Linked DNA regions of Homo sapiens: region 2 is linked to region 1. The links come from fine-mapping of genetic effects on gene expression. A gene starts in region 1. The other region holds a variant in brackets. All regions are shown on one strand. Distances are from middle to middle. Region 1 holds the start of TRPM4 (transient receptor potential cation channel subfamily M member 4). Region 2 overlaps TRPM4 (transient receptor potential cation channel subfamily M member 4).

Evidence for each region. PIP is the estimated chance that this variant, and not a neighbour inherited with it, causes the effect.
Region 2: its variant is fine-mapped to the expression of TRPM4 in whole blood (TOPMed, PIP above 0.99).

Annotation. Positions count from the first base shown.
Region 1 is chr19:49,154,684-49,162,962 of GRCh38, reverse strand. TRPM4 (transient receptor potential cation channel subfamily M member 4) reads right to left here and starts at 5,171. Exons shown (of 25, transcript NM_017636.4): 1 at 5,073-5,171; 2 at 4,704-4,771. The coding sequence starts at 5,096. HRC (histidine rich calcium binding protein) reads left to right here and starts at 7,567. Exons shown (of 6, transcript NM_002152.3): 1 at 7,567-8,279. The coding sequence starts at 7,726. RefSeq lists a silencer at 3,946-4,132 and an enhancer at 4,816-5,437.
Region 2 is chr19:49,195,695-49,204,013 of GRCh38, reverse strand. It overlaps TRPM4 (transient receptor potential cation channel subfamily M member 4), which reads right to left. Exons shown (of 25, transcript NM_017636.4): 17 at 7,140-7,574; 18 at 3,582-3,714; 19 at 3,229-3,403; 20 at 1,873-2,050. Among named protein-coding and RNA genes, the nearest start is that of TRPM4, 42 kb to the right of the region's middle. RefSeq lists a silencer at 6,929-7,255. The variant T/C (reference allele first, on the strand shown) is at 3,507.

The sequences.
Region 1 (8,279 bases):
TGGTGAAACCCTGTTTCTACTAAAAATACAAAAATCAGCTTGGCATGGTGGCGGGTGCCTGTAGTCCCAGCTACTCGGGAGGCTGAGGCAGGAGAATGGCATGAACCCGGGAGGCGGAGGTTGCAGTGAGCCAAGATTGCACCACTGCACTCCAGCCTGGGCGACAGAGCGAGACTCCACCTCAAAAAAAAATTCAGTTTCTCAGGTACAATGGCCATATTCCAAGTGCCCAGTAGCCCCCTGTGGCCAGGACTGCCATATTGGATGTAGACATAGAACGTTTCCAAAATCGTGGAAAATTCTGACATTCAGTGCTAGGAGCCATTCCTTCTGCACAGCTTGCCTCCTACACTCTTTCCTCGGTGGAGCCACAGAAACTGAAATAAATTGTTTTTTTGTTTGTTTGTTTGTTTTGTTTTGTTTTGAGATGGAGTCTCGCTCTGTCTCCCAGGCTAGAATGCAGTGGTACGATCTCAGCTCACTGCAACCTCTGCCACCTGGGCTCAAGCGACTCTCGTGCCTCAGCATCCTGAGTAGCTGGGATTACAGGCATGTGCCACAGTACCTGGCTAGTTTTTGTATTTTTAGTAGAGATGGGGTTTTACCACATTGGCCAGGCTGGTCTCAAACTCCTGACCTCAAGTGATCAGCCCACCTCGGCCTCTCAAACTGCTGGGATTACAGCTGTGAGTCACTGTGCCTGGCCTGAAATTGTTCTTGATAAAAATCATCAATTTCCTGCCTGGCTCCATATACAACGGCCCTTATTCAGGTTTCATCTGACTGTATCACAAGTGGCCCTGGCTACAGCTGAAAGGCTCTCATTCTGGAAACCCTCTCCTTGGCAGGATACCCCTGCCCCTCTGGCCTTCCTCCCCGCCCCGGCTGCTTCATGCCTGACTTGTTTGTGGCTTTCTCTTGCTTTTCACCTCCCTTGAGTGTAGGTGTTCCCAGTGCAAGCCTTCCCTACATGATTCTCAAACCCAATGTGTGCAGAGGCCAGTCAAGTAACTCAACAGAAAGAAGTAGCCAGGGCCAGGAGCAGTGGCTCACACCTGTAATCCCAGCACGTTGGGAGGCCCAGGTGGGCAGATCACTTGAGGTCAGGAGTTCGAGATCAGCCTGGCCAACATGGTGAAACCTTGTCTCTACTAAAAGTACAAAAATTAGCCAGGCGTGATGGTGGGTGCCTGTAATCCCAGCTACTCGGGGGGCTGAGGCAGGAGAATCGCTTGAACCCAGGAGGCAGAGGTTGAAGTGAGCCGAGATCGCACTACTGCACTCCAGCCTGGGTGATAGAGCGAGACTCCGTCTCAAAAAAAAAAAAGAGGTAGCCGGGTATGGTGGCTCTCGCCTGTAATTCCAGCACTTTGGCAGGCAGAGTGAGGTGGGAGGCTCACTTGAGTCCAGGAGTTGGATACCAGCCTGGTCTGGTATCAAAGGGAGACCCGGTTTCTACAAAAAATTTTAAAATTAGCCAGGCATGGTGGTGCATGCCTGTGGTCCCAGCTACTCCGGAGGCTCATGTGGGAGGATCGCTTGAGCCCAGCAGGTCAAGGCTGCAGTGAACCATGATCGTGCCACTCCAGCCTGGACAACAGAGCAAGACCCTGTCTCAAAAAAAAAAAAAAAAAAAAAAGAGAGAGAGACAGAAGACAGATATTTTTAAATGCTCTTCTAAACACACACACACACAAACACACGCACACAATTGGCTATAGAATTGCCAGTTTGCAACTCCCCTGACTTTACACGTTGTTTTCCCTGTGACGTCTTACCTACTTCCAGTTTCAATTACCAGCTACAACTCGGACCTCTCAGATTCTGGACATTAGTCCAGACCTTTCCCAATCTCAGTCCCCACATGCCCCTCGGTCCCCCTAGGCCGCTCATATGCACAGATTCCCACATTGCACTCAGCGACATTTCCCAAACCTGCTTGCCCTCCTGAGCTCTCCATCTCAGGGACAGCCCCACTGTGTCCCAGTCAGCAGAGCATACGTCCCGGAGCCATCCACCGATGGCGGCACCCCCTCTCTCCCTCATCACCCTCATCAAGCCCCAAGCTCTGCCTTCCTGCCCCCTGAGTCTTTGCCCCATGCCCTCCTCTCTGTGTCCCGAAAGCCCTGACCTGGCTCAGGCCACTACCCCTCCCGCTCAGACGCTCTCTACAGCCTCCTCCCGAGCTCCTGTTCATCCTCTCCCAGCCCCAGAAAGTTTTTCCACACCCAGAGCCAACCCCACTGCTGCGGTGATGCCCCAGCTCCCAAGGACAAGATCCCAGCCCCTTAGGGTGGCCTCTGACACCCTGCAAGCTCTGGCCCTGCCCTCCTCTGCAGCCTCTTCTCTCATGACAGTGCTCCCTGCACCCTGAACTTTGATTCATATTCAAGCCAAACCATATGGTCCTTAGCAAGGACTTTGCACATGCTGTTCAAATCACTTTTTTCTTTCTTTCTTTCTTTTTTTTTTTTTTTTTGAGATGGAGTCTTGCTCTGTCACCCAGGCTGGAGTGCAGTGACGTGATCTCTGCTCATAGTAGCCTCCGTCTCCCAGGTTTAAGTGATTCTCCTGCCTCCTGAGTAGCTGGGATTACAGGCATGCGCCAATACGCCCAGTTAATTTTTGTATTTTTAGTAGAGATAGGGTTGCACCATGTTAGCCAAGCTGGTCTCGAACTCCTGACTTAGGTGATCCACCCGCCTCGGCCTCCCAGATTGTTGGGATGACAGGCGTGAGCCACAATGCCCGGCCCCAAATCGCTTTCCATGGGCCTCTCTCCAGCTCACTTTCAAATGTCACCTCACTAGCCACTCTTCCTCCCTCCAGAAACCATTAGTGACATTTTGTGTCCCCTCCCAGTCTTAAGCAAACACCTCCTCCCAGCTCTCACAGAGCCCAGTGGCTCGTCTTTGGGAGCTGCAACCCCTTGCCTTACTATAATTATCTTCTGCGTTTCTTCCTCCTCAGGCCAGACCAGAGTTTCCTAAATTGTCTTGACCACACTGACCTATCAGTAAAAAGGTTTTGAGCACTCACGTCCAACAAGCGCATATCTGTTTATTTATCCATCATTTACAAGCCATACTGCACTAATATATAGTCATAACAAAATACACACTGAAGTAGGAATGTGGATACTTCCCGCACCCCAAAAACTGTCTTGAAAAACAACTAGAGGGCTGGGCGCGGTGGCTCACACCTGTAATCCCAGTACTTTGGAAAGCCAAGGCAGGTGCATTGCCTGAGATCAAGAGTTCAAGACCAACCTGGGCAACAGGGTGAAATCCCGTCTCTACTAAAATACAAAAAATTAGCTGGGCATGGTGGTAGGCACCTGTAATCCCAGCTACTAGGGAGGCTGAGGCATGAGAACTGCTTGAACCCAGGAGGTGGATGTTGCAGTGAGCTGATATCGCAACACTGCACTCCAGCCTGGGCGACAGAGCCAGACTCTGTCTCAAAAAAACAAAAAACAAAAAACTAGAAAGCCTGGGCCAGGTGCGGTGGCTCACACCTGTAATCCTAGCGCTTTGGGAGGCCGAGGCCGGCGGATCATGAGGTCAGGAGATCGAGACCATCTGGCTAACACGGTGCAACCCCGTCTCTACTAAAAAAAAAATACAAAAAATTGGCCCAGCGCGATGGCTCACGCCTGTAATCCCAGTACTTTGAGGGGCTGAGGCGGGCGGATCACAAGGTCAGGAGATCGAGATCATCCTGGCCAACACGGTGAAACCCCGTCTCTACTAAAATACAAAAAATTAGCCGGGCGTGGTGGCGGGCGCCTGTAGTCCCAGCTACTCGGGAGGCTGAGGCAGGAAAACGGCGTGAACCCGGGAGGCGGAGCTTGCAGTGAGCCGAGATCGCGCCACTGCACTCCAGCCTGGGGGACAGAGCGAGACACCGTCTCAAAAAAAAAAAAAAAAAAAAAAAAACTAGAAAGCCTGGATCCGCTTGAGAGGCCGTCACTGAAGGGCGGGAGCTCCTCGCGGACGCACACACCCTATCTAGCTCAATTGGTGTCCCCGGCCACCAAGACAGGGCCCGCCCGCGGTAATAATTGCCACCTCCCAGTGGGAGCTGCAGATATTTCCCAGCGTCCTGTGCTGGGCGCTGTGCCAGGAATATCACAAGCATTAACTTGTTTAATTCTCATAATAACCCCAGGAGATCAAGCCTCTTTTGATGCCCAGATGAGAAACGGGACCCAGAGAGGTGAAATGATTTGCCCGAAGCCACACAGCACGTGTCCCAGGGGAAATTGGAACCCTGGCAGGGCCGTTGAATTAGGCTAAAGGGACCTTGGGAGCGCTGAGTGAGGGTTTCTTGCATGGATGGATGAATGAATGAATGAATGAATGAATGAATGAATGAAACAGAAATACCCAAAAGGGAAAGACAGAGACACAGAAAGTGACACGAAGAGACAGAAGCACATAGAAGAGACATCGGGGAGGAAAGAAGCAGAACCGAGCCCTGGAGCGTCTACACTGACCCTGAGCGGGAGAATGGCGAATGGGGAATGAGGGGTGTCTACACAGACCCAAACGCTCCTAGAGGGAGAGCGTCGGCAAGGAACGCCCTTGGGAAGGTCCCCGAGTCCAGGAATGGGGAAGGAGCAGGGCTGGGGCGTGACCATCCGCGGGCGGGGTCAGCGGGCCGCGGACCCTCTGGGGTCAGTCCAGGGGCGAACTCCTCACCCCGGATCTGTGGAGTCAACTATGAACGTCGTGCAGGTCTTCTTCTTGAAGATCTTGGGGATCCAGCTCTGGGGACAGGAACAAATGTAGGGGTGGAAGTGGGGTGAGAGGGCACCCAGTTCTGTCCTATGGGACACAGAGCCACCCACCCCGTGCGCTCCCCACGGACACAGGAGTCCGGGCCCCCAGCGCCCTCCCGCTCCAGACTCAGGAGTCTCGACCCCCATGCCCTGGACCCTGGAACCTGGACCCTCCCATCCCCCTCCTCCGTCTGACCCAGGAATCTGGGTGTCCAGCGCCCTCCTCTCTGGGAGCCTGGAGGCGAGGTCCCCAGCTCCGCGCTCCCGCAGACCCTGGTCCGGCGCTCACCTGCTCCTTCTCCGGCACCACCATGCTGCCGCGGCCGCCGCAACCTCCTGCAGCCCAGGGCCCCGGCGCTCCCTCCGCCGGCTCTGCTTCCAGACCCGCCCAGAGCAAACCGGATCCTCCACTTTCCAGCCTAGCCTGGGGCGGGGCGAGGTCTGGGGGGCGGGGAGTCTTGGAGACGCCAAAGCGGGAGGCGGGGAGAGGGCGGGTCCCAGGCCGCGATAAGGGGACAGAGGGACAGCGACCTGGGGGGTGCAGAGGTCCGGGCCGGGGGGAGAGAGACACACAGGGGAGACTCCAAGGGCAAGCGCGAGATGGGAACAGAAGGAGTTGGGGGCCAGTGGCGGAGAGGGAACAGACTCAGAAAGGAGGATGCCAGACAGGGAGGGGACAATTTAACCCAAAGAGGGGGAGACAAAGACTTAGGGGACAGAGAATCAGAAGGTGGGGCAGCAGGGACCCAGGGATAGACAGAGAGAGAGGGGGACAGAGACCCACAGAGAGAGGGGGACAGAGACCCAGGGAGAGGGGACAGAGACCCAGAGAGAGTGGGACAGAGACCCAGAGAGAGTGGGACAGAGACCCACAGAGAGAGGGGGACAGAGACCCAGGGAGAGGAGGACAGAGACCCAGAGAGGGGGGGACAGAGACCCAGAGAGGGGGGGACAGAGACCCAGGGAGGGGGGGACAGAGACCCAGGGAGAGGGGACAGAGACCCACGGAGAGGGGGACAGAGACCCAGGGAGAGGGGACAGAGACCCAGAGAGAGGGGGACAGAGACCCAGAGAGAGGGGGACAGAGACCCAGAGAGACGGGGACAGAGACCCAGAGAGAGGGGGACAGAGACCCAGAGAGAGGGGAACAGAGACCCAGAGAGAGAGGAGGACAGAGACCCAGAGAGAGGGGGACAGAGACCCAGAGAGACGGGGACAGAGACCCAGAGAGAGGGGGACAGAGACCCAGAGAGAGGGGAACAGAGACCCAGAGAGAGAGGAGGACAGAGACCCAGAGAGAGGGGGACAGAGACCCAGAGAGGGGGGGACAGAGACCCAGGGATGGGGGGACAGAGACCCAGGGAGAGGGGACAGAGACCCACGGAGAGGGGTACAGAGACCCAGGGAGAGGGGACAGAGACCCAGAGAGAGGGGGACAGAGACTCTGAGACAGAGGGGGACAGAGACCCTGAGAGAGGGGGACAGAGACCCAGAGAGAGGGGAACAGAGACCCAGAGAGAGAGGGGGACAGAGACCCACAGAGAGAGGGGAACAGAGACCCAGAGAGAGGGGGACAGAGATCCACAGAGAGAGGGGGACAGAGACCCACAGAGAGAGGGGAACAGAGACCCAGAGAGAGGGGGACAGAGATCCACAGAGAGAGGGGGACAGAGACCCAGGGAGAGGGGGACAGAGACCCAGAGAGAGGGGGACAGAGACCCAGGGAGAGGTGGACAGAGACTCTGAGACAGAGGGGGACAGAGACTCTGAGAGAGAGTGGGGACAGAGACCCAGAGAGGTGGATGCCAGAGATGGGGAGGAGACACCTTGACTGAGGCAAGGGGCAGAGGGGGATGCAAAAACCAAAGAATTGGGGGAAGGGCAGGAACTCAGAAAGGAGGGGCCAGAGATTTAGGGGAGAGAGAGGGACACAGACTTGGGGGAGGACTGACACTAAGATAAGAGTGGGACAGAAGCCCAGAGTGAGAGGGAGAGGCAATCCCATGGAGGAGGGACAGGGACCCTGAGAGAGCAGATGACAGAATTGAAGAGAGAGGAGGACCCGTGAACAGGAAAGGAGACCCTAGTGGGGGCAGTCATGAAGGGTGAGGAGTAGGAAATACTGACACACAGAGACGGGCAAGGCCACTTGTCTCCTGCCAGCCCTCTGTGATGGGGACAGCTGTGGCCTCCGTAACCTGAGTCCCCCTACCCCTCCCAGCTGTATTTATAGCCCTGGCCTAGCCCAGTCCCTGCCCCCAGATCTGAGTTCCAGGGACAGGAGGTCATGGGCACGTGTGTTGGGGGCCATGTTCCTTTCCCCCCATTCTAGGGCCTCAATACTGACATCACTCTCTCACCAGCACGTATCATTCCAGCTGGAAACACCCCGCAATCGAACCCCCAGTCCTTCCGTCCCAGGAGTCTCTCCCCTCTGATAAGTCTCTTCTGCCTCCCCCAGGTGCCCCAGGCTCCCCCAAAAACCTGCTAAAAGTCTAGCCTTTGTCTTTGCAGCTGCCAAACGTGAGCTTGTTGGTAGTTCAAAGTCAAGTCCCTTGGCCACCGTCTCCTGGCCAGGGAGAGACCCCTCACTGGTCCCCTCCCCAGCTGGGAGGAGGAGGAGCAGGAGGCAGGCAGGCGGGGACTGACCCAGAATAACTCAGGGCTGAGAGTAAATTTAGCTGGAGAGAGGGGAGGGGAAGGACCCTATTGGCTGGGGAATGGGGAGGGAGGGCCCCAGAGGGGGGTCAGGGGGCTCCGGAGACAGCCTCAGAGGGGTGTCCAGAGCCAGGCAGCAAGGACCAGAGGAAGGTGGACAGAGACCGAAAGGACAAAGGAGAGACACAGAGAAAAAAAGAGACCAACCCCAAAGGGACAAAGACCCCAACGTTTGTCCACATTGCCGCAGAGGCAGCTGGAGCCAGTGCTGCCTGTCCGTCCCCATGGGCCACCATAGGCCATGGCTGCACGCTTCTGTCCTCTGGGCTGGGGTGGCCAGCCTGCTCCTCCCCCCGGCCATGACCCAGCAGCTCAGAGGGGATGGGCTAGGCTTCAGAAACCGGAACAACAGCACTGGAGTCGCCGGGCTCTCCGAGGAGGCATCAGCAGAGCTTCGCCACCACCTCCACAGCCCTAGAGACCATCCAGATGAGAACAAGGATGTTTCCACAGAGAATGGGCATCATTTCTGGAGCCACCCAGACCGTGAAAAGGAGGATGAAGATGTCTCCAAGGAATATGGGCACCTACTCCCAGGCCACAGGTCCCAAGACCACAAAGTCGGAGATGAGGGTGTCTCAGGTGAGGAGGTCTTTGCAGAGCATGGTGGGCAGGCCCGTGGGCACAGAGGCCACGGGAGTGAAGACACGGAAGACTCAGCTGAGCACAGGCACCACCTCCCCAGCCACAGGAGCCACAGCCATCAAGACGAGGATGAGGATGAAGTTGTGTCCAGTGAGCATCACCATCATATCCTCAGGCATGGACACCGAGGCCA
Region 2 (8,319 bases), 41 kb before region 1:
CAAGTAGCTGGAATTACAGACATGAGCCCAGCTAATTTTTGTATTTTTAGTAAAAAGGGGGTCCTGCCACGTTGGCCAGGCTGGTCTCGAACTCCTGACCTCAGGTGATCCACCCGCCTAGGCCTCCCAAAGTGCTGGGATTACAGGCATGAGCCACCACGCTGGGCCCAAATGTGGTCTATTTGTACAATAGAATATTACTCATTCATAAAACGGAATGAATGAAGTTCTGATGCACACTACAACAGGGATGAGCCTTGAAAACATGCTCAGTAAAATCAGCCAGACACCAAAAGACAAATATCGCATAATTCCACTTACATGAAACATCTAGACTAAATCCATAGAGACAGAAAATACACTGGAGGTTACTAAGACCTGTGGGGAGGGGAAGTGGGGAGTTGCTGTTTCATGGGGACACACTTTCTGTTCTGGGTGATAGAACGTATTGAAAATAGATAGTGGTGATGGTTGGAGAGTACTGTAAATGTAATTAATGTCACTGACTTGTACACTTAAAAATGGTAAAAATCAACTCCGGCCGCGGTGGCTCATGTCAGTAATCCCAGCACTCTGGGAGGCCAAGGCGGGCGGATCACAAGGTCAGGAGATCGAAACCATCCTGGCTAACACGGTGAAACCCCATCTCTACTAAAAATACAAAAAATTAGCCAGGTGTGGTGGCGCACGCCTGTAGTCCTAGCTACTTGGGAGGCTGAGGCAGGAGAATCGCTTGAACCTGGGAGGTGGAGGTTGCAGTAAGCTGAGATTGCACCATTGCACTCCAGCCTGGGCGACAGAGCGAGACTCCATCTCAAAAAAAGGCGGGGCGCGGTGGCTCACGCCTGTAATCCTAGCACTTTGGGAGGCCAAGGCGGGTGGATCACGAGGTCAGGAGATTGAGACCATCCGGGTTAACACGGTGAAACTCCGTCTCTACTAAAAATACAAAAAAATTAGCTGGGCGTGGTGGCGGGCACCTGTAGTCCCAGCTACTCAGGAGGCTGAGGTAGGAGAATGGCGTGAACCCGGGTGGCGGAGCTTGTAGTGAGCTGAGATTGTGAGATCGTGCCACTGCACTCTAGCCTGGGTGACACAGCGAGACTCCGTCAAAAAAAAAAAAAAAAAAAAAGAAGTAAAAATGGAAAATTTTATATAATTTTACCACAATAAAAAACAAAGTTGGCTGGGCGCGATGGCTCACACCTGTAATCCCAACACTTTGGGAGGCTGAGGTGGGCCAATCACTTGAGGTCAAGAGTTCAAGGCCAACATGGTGAAACCCTATCTCTACTACAAATACAAAAAATTAACTGGGTATGGGGGAGTGGGAAGTGGAGGTTGCAGTGAGCTGAGAACTTGCCACTACACTCCAGCCTAGGTGACAGATTATCCCAGCACTTTGGGAGGCTGAGGAGGGAGGATCACTTGAGTCCAGGAGCTCGAGACTAGCATGGACAACATAGTGAGACCCCTCTCTCCAAAAATTTTTTTAAATTAGGCAGGCCTGCTGGCCTGGCTAATTTTAAGTAGTCCCAGCTACTTATGGGGCGAAGGCAGGAGGATTGCTTGAGTCCAGGAGGTCGAGGCTGCAGTAAGCTACGATCACATCACCACACTCTAGCCTTGGCGACAGAGTGAGACCCTGTCTCAAAAAAATACAAATAAGGAAGTTCAACCTGGGCTCAGGGAGAGGATCAGTCCAAAGTCCAAATTACAAGCAGGGTCTGGTTGGGTTTGGGGAGAAGGCAGCATTAGATTGGATCAGAGTTCAGGGACTAAAAACAGAATTCATTAGACGGGGTTCAAGAGTCATGAGAGGGCCACGGGTCATGCTGGGTGGGGTCAGATCAGAGAGCAGTCAGGCCTCACCTGAACATGGCAATGAGCAAGTTGACCAGCAGGATGTTGGCCACGAGCAGGAAGATGACGAGGAGCAGCACCACCAGCCAGTTGGCATACTGGGAGACGCAGGTGCCCGCCTGGGCCCCAGGAGGGTGTGCCCAGAAGCCGGGCTCCGACGAGCAGTTGCTGTGCTCCATGAGGGCCACTGTGAAGAGAGACATTCAGAGATGGGGTGAGGGGGACAGAGACCTAAGAAAGACAGGAAGACTGCCGGGCGCGGTGGCTCACGCCTGTAATCCCAGCACTTTTGGGAGGCTGAGATGGCCGGATCACCTGAGGTGGGGAGTTTGAGACTAGCCTGACCAATGTGATGAAACCCCATCTCTACTAAAAACACAAAACTGTTAGCCAGGCGTGGTGGCACGCGCCTGTAGTCCCAGCTACTCGGGAGGCTGAGATAGGAGAATCGCTTCGATCTGGGAGGTGGAGGTTGCAGTGAGCTGAGATCGTGCCATTGCACTCCAGCCTGGGCAACAAGAGCAAAACTCCATGTAAAAAGTAAAGTACAGGTTCCTCTTCAAAGACTTTCCTCCCCATCTAATTAACAATAAATAGTAACTTCTCTTAGAAACAAAATTTATTCAAACACCTGTGCTAACATTCTTAAATATCTACTAGCCATAAAAAATAAATCAATGTACTTTATGTTCTTAGCTCTCACAATTTAGCCTAAATATTTGCCCTGACATACTTATACTGGTTCAAGCAAGCATTAGATCATAGCCTGTTCCTCTTCCTTATTTAAAAGTGTTTTTACCTTTCTCAACATTCCACAAGTTACTTCCTCCTTCCTTTGTTCTCCTCTGCCTTCGCTTCTTTTAAAAACTTCTAAGTTACTAGCCAATCAAGACAAATACAAAATGTAAAGTCCGGTTCCAGCCAATAAAAACCAGACACAGCAGTAAAATAGACGCGTCAGGTTATAAATGACCCTATCTCCTTTGTTCCGTGTACTCTCATGACAAAACTGCTGGCGAGTGTACCCTTTCTACAAAAAATAAAAATGGCTTTACTAAAAAAATTAAATTTATGTTCAAGTACTATTTCTTTACGACACCACAAAATAAACATTTCTAACATCCATCTCAAAAAAAAAGAAAAAAAAAAAGAAAAAAGAAAGACAGACAGAAAGACAGAGGGGGTGGGGTAGGCAGAGACCCAGAGAGATGATGATGGGGAATATAGGGTATCACTCAGAGATCCAGAGAAAGAGGGAGACAGAGACTCAGAGAGACAGATATTTTCTTAGAGCCAGGAGGACAGAGACCCAGGGAGCGGGGACAGAGACTCAGAGGAAGGCTGTCAGGCCGTCATCCCCCCTACCGTCCATGTCCTCCTGGGGAATCTGCCCGAAGATCTGCAGGTAGGGACGGTAGAAGACGCGGCGCAGGATACTTGGGAAGTCACTGTCCCGTGGCCTCAGGAGCCCCTCCGTGGCCACGCCATAGGCTACCAGCCACACGCCGAGGAAGAAGAGGAAGAAGAACACGTCCTTCATCTGTGGGGAGATGTGGCTGAGTCTGGCCCCGCCCTTTCCTACTCTGGCCCCACCCCTATATCCCAAAAACACGCCCCATTGCTCCCCAAAGTCACGCCCCTTC[T/C]CCACGGACCACTCCCTCCCTGGCCCCACCCCTTTCCCTATGTCCCCGCCCACTTTGGCCCCGCCCCTGCCTCACCATCTTGCTCACGATGACGATCTTGGGCCCCAGCTGTTTGTTGACCGTGAAGATGTGAAGCAGCCGCACCGTGAAAACCATGAAGTCGATGCAGAGGACAGTGCGGCCCAGGTGGTACAAACCCGGGGTCAGCCTGGGGTGTGGGGAGATGCCACAAGGGTCAAGTGTCACAAGACGCCAAGGAAAATGGAAGTCTTCCCAATGCCATCCTTCAGAGGAAGCTGCAGCCTCCACCGGGCAGGACCAGGACCCTCCCAGTCACCCGGGGTTTACTCAAATTTATTCAGTACCAAGCTGGTCCATGCAGGGCCCTGGCACCCATTTTTAAAATGGCTGCGCCTATTAAGTAATGACTGAATGAACGATGGCCTTAGCAAAGAGCTGGTCCCTGTAAGAATCAAGCTGGAAAAACTGCCGGAATATCTGTCCAACCTATAAAAGGCAAAACATATAGAGTCCTTACAAACTAATACGCAAAAGGAAGGAAGCCAGATAAAGGATACCACGTACAATTCACAGAGGACGTTCAAACGGCCAGTAAACATCAATAATTCCTATGGGGAAAATAAAAATTCTACCCCTATTTTGCATCCTCATGTACTTAAACTTTGGATGGATTAAAAACCTAGTGTATGGACAGACGCGGTGGCTCACGCCTGTAATCCCAGCACTTTGGGAGGCCGAGGCAGGCTCAAAAAAAAGAAAAGAAAAGAAACATACAAAAGTGAAAGTGAAAAGACAAGCCACAGACTTCGAGAAGATATGAAGATATTAAGACCAACAAAACTACCGAGGATTAGGATCCAGAGTATAAGGAGTATATACATTTATACATATACAAATCAATGAACCCCAATTAAAAAAACGGGAGGGTGGCCGGTCGCAGTGGCTCACGCCTGTAATCCTAGCACTTTGGGAGGCCGAGGCGGGCGGATCACGGGGTCAGGAGATCGAGAACATCTTGGCTAACACGGTGAAACCCCGTCTCTACTACAAAATACAAAAAATTAGCCGGGCGTGGAGGCAGGCACCTGTAGTCCCAGCTACTCAGTAGGCTGAGGCAGGAGAATGGCGTGAACCCGGGAGGCGGAGGTTGCAGTGAGCCGAGATCGCGCCACTGCACTCCAGCCTGGGCTACAGAGCGAGACTCCGTCTCAAAAACAAAAACAAAAACAAAAACCAAAAAAAAAACAAGGGGGCACAAGGACATATGGCCATTAAGCTTAGGAAAAGATGTCCAACCTATCTGGTAGTCAAGAGTGCATAAATTATAACAAGGAGAGGTCATGTTTACCCATTAAATTGGCAAATTTTTTTTCAGTTAAATTGAGAGCTACATTTTAGAGTGAAAGTATCAGGCATTGTCGAGCATGGCCTCAAGGGGGCACTCTCTTACCCTGATGGCAGGTGTGGAAATGAGTGAAGCTACTTAGAAGGAAATCTATCCATGTCAAAAATAAATGTACCCTTTGACCCATAAACTTTACATCTGGGATGTAAACTTTTATTATTTTGGAATAATAAAAAAACAGAAGGCTGAGCATAGTAGCTCACGCCTGTAATCCCAGCACTTTGAGAGGCCAAGGTGGGAGGATTGCTTGAGCCCTGGAGTTTGAGACCAGCCTGGGCAACAGAGTGAGACCCTGTCTCTATTTAAAACAAAAAAAGAAAGAAAGAGAGAACCTAAATGTCCATCTAGAGGGAACTGGCGAAACAAAGGATGATTCATCCATTCAATTCCGGAGATGATTAGACATTTCTCCCTTTTTTTTTTTTTTTTTTTTTTGACAGAGTTTTGCTCTTTTCACCCAGGCTAGAGTGCAGTGGCATGATCTTGGCTCACTGCAACCTCCGCCTCCCAGGTTCAGGCAATTATCCTGCCTCAGCCTCCCGAGTAGCTGGGATTACAGGCGCCTGCCACCATGCCCGGCTAATTTTTTGTATTTTTAGTAGAGATGGGGTTTCACCATGTTGGGCAGGCTGGTCTCAAACTCCTGATCTCAGGTGATCCACCCGCCTCGGCCTCCCAAAGTGCTGGGATTACAGGCATGAGCCACCACGCCAGGCCCGTTTCTCCCTTTTAAGCTGAGATCTTTCCATTTTTCACCTGGAAAGTGGTAGGCTTGATAAACTGTCCAAAATATCACTGGCAATCCTAGAGCATGGTAGCATATGGCCTTAGCCCTTTCATCTCAAAAGTCACTTTATACAAAATACAACAAATTACAAACAGAAGTATTAGTGTTCTGCAAAACTCTCATATCTTGCTCCCTGCTTGAATAAATTATTTATGTTGAATCACTTTGTAACACTGCTAACATAGCTTAGAGGAAGCCTGCCTCTCAGCGTGTCTACTGGGAAAAGCTTGAGTAGGGATCATCACTGTCATCACTGTCAACCATTCAGGATGTGTCAGGTCCCTTGTAAACAGTCACCAGGTTGTTGGCCAGGCACGGTGACCCACATCTGTAATCTCAGCACTTTCAGAGGCTAAGGCCAGTGGATCACTTGAGGCCAAGAGTTCAAGACCAGCCTGGTCAATATGGCAAAGCCCCATCTCTACAAAAAAAATACAAAAAAAATTTAGCTAGGTGTAGTGGTGCATGCCTGTAATCCCAGCTACTCACGAGGCTGAGGCAAGAGAATCGCTTGAACCCAGGAGGTGGAGGTTGCAGTGAGCCAAGATCGTACCACTGCACTCCAGTCTGGGCGACACAGCGGAACTCTGGCTCAAAAAAAAAAAAGAAAAGAAAGAAAACAAAAACAAACAAACAAACAAAAAACCAGTCACCAGGTTGTATCCACAAACTTTTCTGTTTGCTCTCCTCAAAAGGAGGAGTATCCTAATGCAGGATACTCCATAATGCAGGCAGGGCAAGGGTTAAACCCTTAGCTTGGAGGGATGGAAGGAAGCATAGAAGGAAGGAAGGAAGGAAGGAAGGAAGGAAGGAAGGAAGGAGGGAGGGAGGCAGAGGGGCAGAGGACAGAGGGAGAGAGAGAGAAAGAAAAGAGAAAAAGAAAAAGAAAAGAAAGGAAAAGAAAAGAGAAAGAAAGAAAAGAAAGAGAGAGAAAGAAAGAAAGAAAGAAAGAAAGAAAGAAAGAAAGAAAGAAAGAAAGAAAGAAAAAGAAAGAAAGAGAAAGAAAGAAAGAAAAAAAAAGGAAAGAAAGAAAAAGTCGGGGGCAGGAGGGCAAGGGGCCTGGGACCAACGAGCTATGTGGAGGAAGAGAAGGGAGGAGGTGAGGTTGGCACCCAGGTCGGGGCGCTCCCATAAATATCTGTTAAACTTCAGGCCTAGCAATAAATAGCAGCAGAGGCTGAGTGGCGGACAGTGGGGTTTTCTCCTGAATCCTGCCGTCCCTGAAGCCAGATCTCCAGGTGCCAGCCAATTACCCTGGGGCAATCGTCATGCCCGACTTTCCTAAGAGGGGTTCTCAATCAGCAGGGTTGGCTTGACCTGCTGCCCAGCTGCGGGGAAGCCGGGAGTGGAGACCCCGGGAGTGGGCAGGAAGGATGAGAGGTGGCCAGGGGCCAGGGTTCCAAGGCCCCGGGGCACTCACCGGCAGCCCACGCCCAGGAGGAAGCAGGTGAGAGCCACTAGGTCGCACTGGTTCCAGCTGTCGGCGAGGTAGAGGCGCAGGCGCTGGCTCAGTGAGGCATGGCCAGGCCCGGGGCCCCCGCTGGCGAGGCTGCCCCCGCCTCCGCTCAGGCCCTGGCGCAGTTCCTCGCACAGCAGCGTGAAAGCCCAGAAATAGAGCAGCAGCTCCAGGGAGCCGGGCGGCGCCGGCTGGAAATCCACGAGCAGCACCCGCGAGAAAAGCAGCAGGAACAGCAGGTAGCTGACCACGTTGCCCATGAAGATGGTCACCGGCGCGCCCCAGAAGTGGAACCAGCGGCGTAGGCACCGGCGCCCCCCGCAGCGGCCCCCGCAGCAACCCGGACGGCCCGACTGGCGCGGGACCCCCAGCGGCGTCTTCTCGGCTGGGTCCGCCGTCCTGTGGGGGAAGAGAAGAGAAGGGAGGAGGCCTCACTCTGACCTCTGAGTCCTGATCTCCACCATCATCGAGACTTTTGGCTTGGCACATCTCACCCTGCCTGACCCGAAACTCAGTCTGCCCAGAGCTAATTTCTTGGGTTTTGACTCTTGTATCTAACCTCTGACCTCTGAAATCTCCGGTCAAGAGGTGGATTGATCGCTTGAGCCGAGGAGTTGGAGACCAGCCTGGCCAACATGGCAAAACCTCATCTCTACAAAAAATATTTTAAAAATATACCCGGATCGGGCGCGGTGGCTCACGCCTGTAATCGCAGCACTTTGGGAGTTAAGGCGGGCAGATCACCTGAGGTAGGGAGTTCGAGACCAGCCTGGCCAACATGGTGAAACCCTGTCTCTACTAAAAATACAAAAATTAGCCGGGTCTGGTGGCGCATGCCAGTAGTCCCACATACTCGGGAGGCTGAGGCGGGAGAATCGCTTGAACCTGGGAGGCAGAGGTTGCAATGCACTGCAGCCTAGGCGACAGAGTGAGACTCTGTCTCAAAAATAATAATAATAATAATAATAAAATAAATAAAAATAAAAATTTAGCCAGTAGTAGGGGCAAGCACCTGTAGTCCCAGCTACTGGGGAGGCTGAAATGGGAGGATCACTTGAGTACAGGAGGCCCAGGCTGCAGTCAGCCATGAACATGCCACTGCACTCCAGCTTGGGCAATAGAGCGAGACCCTGTCTAAAAAAAA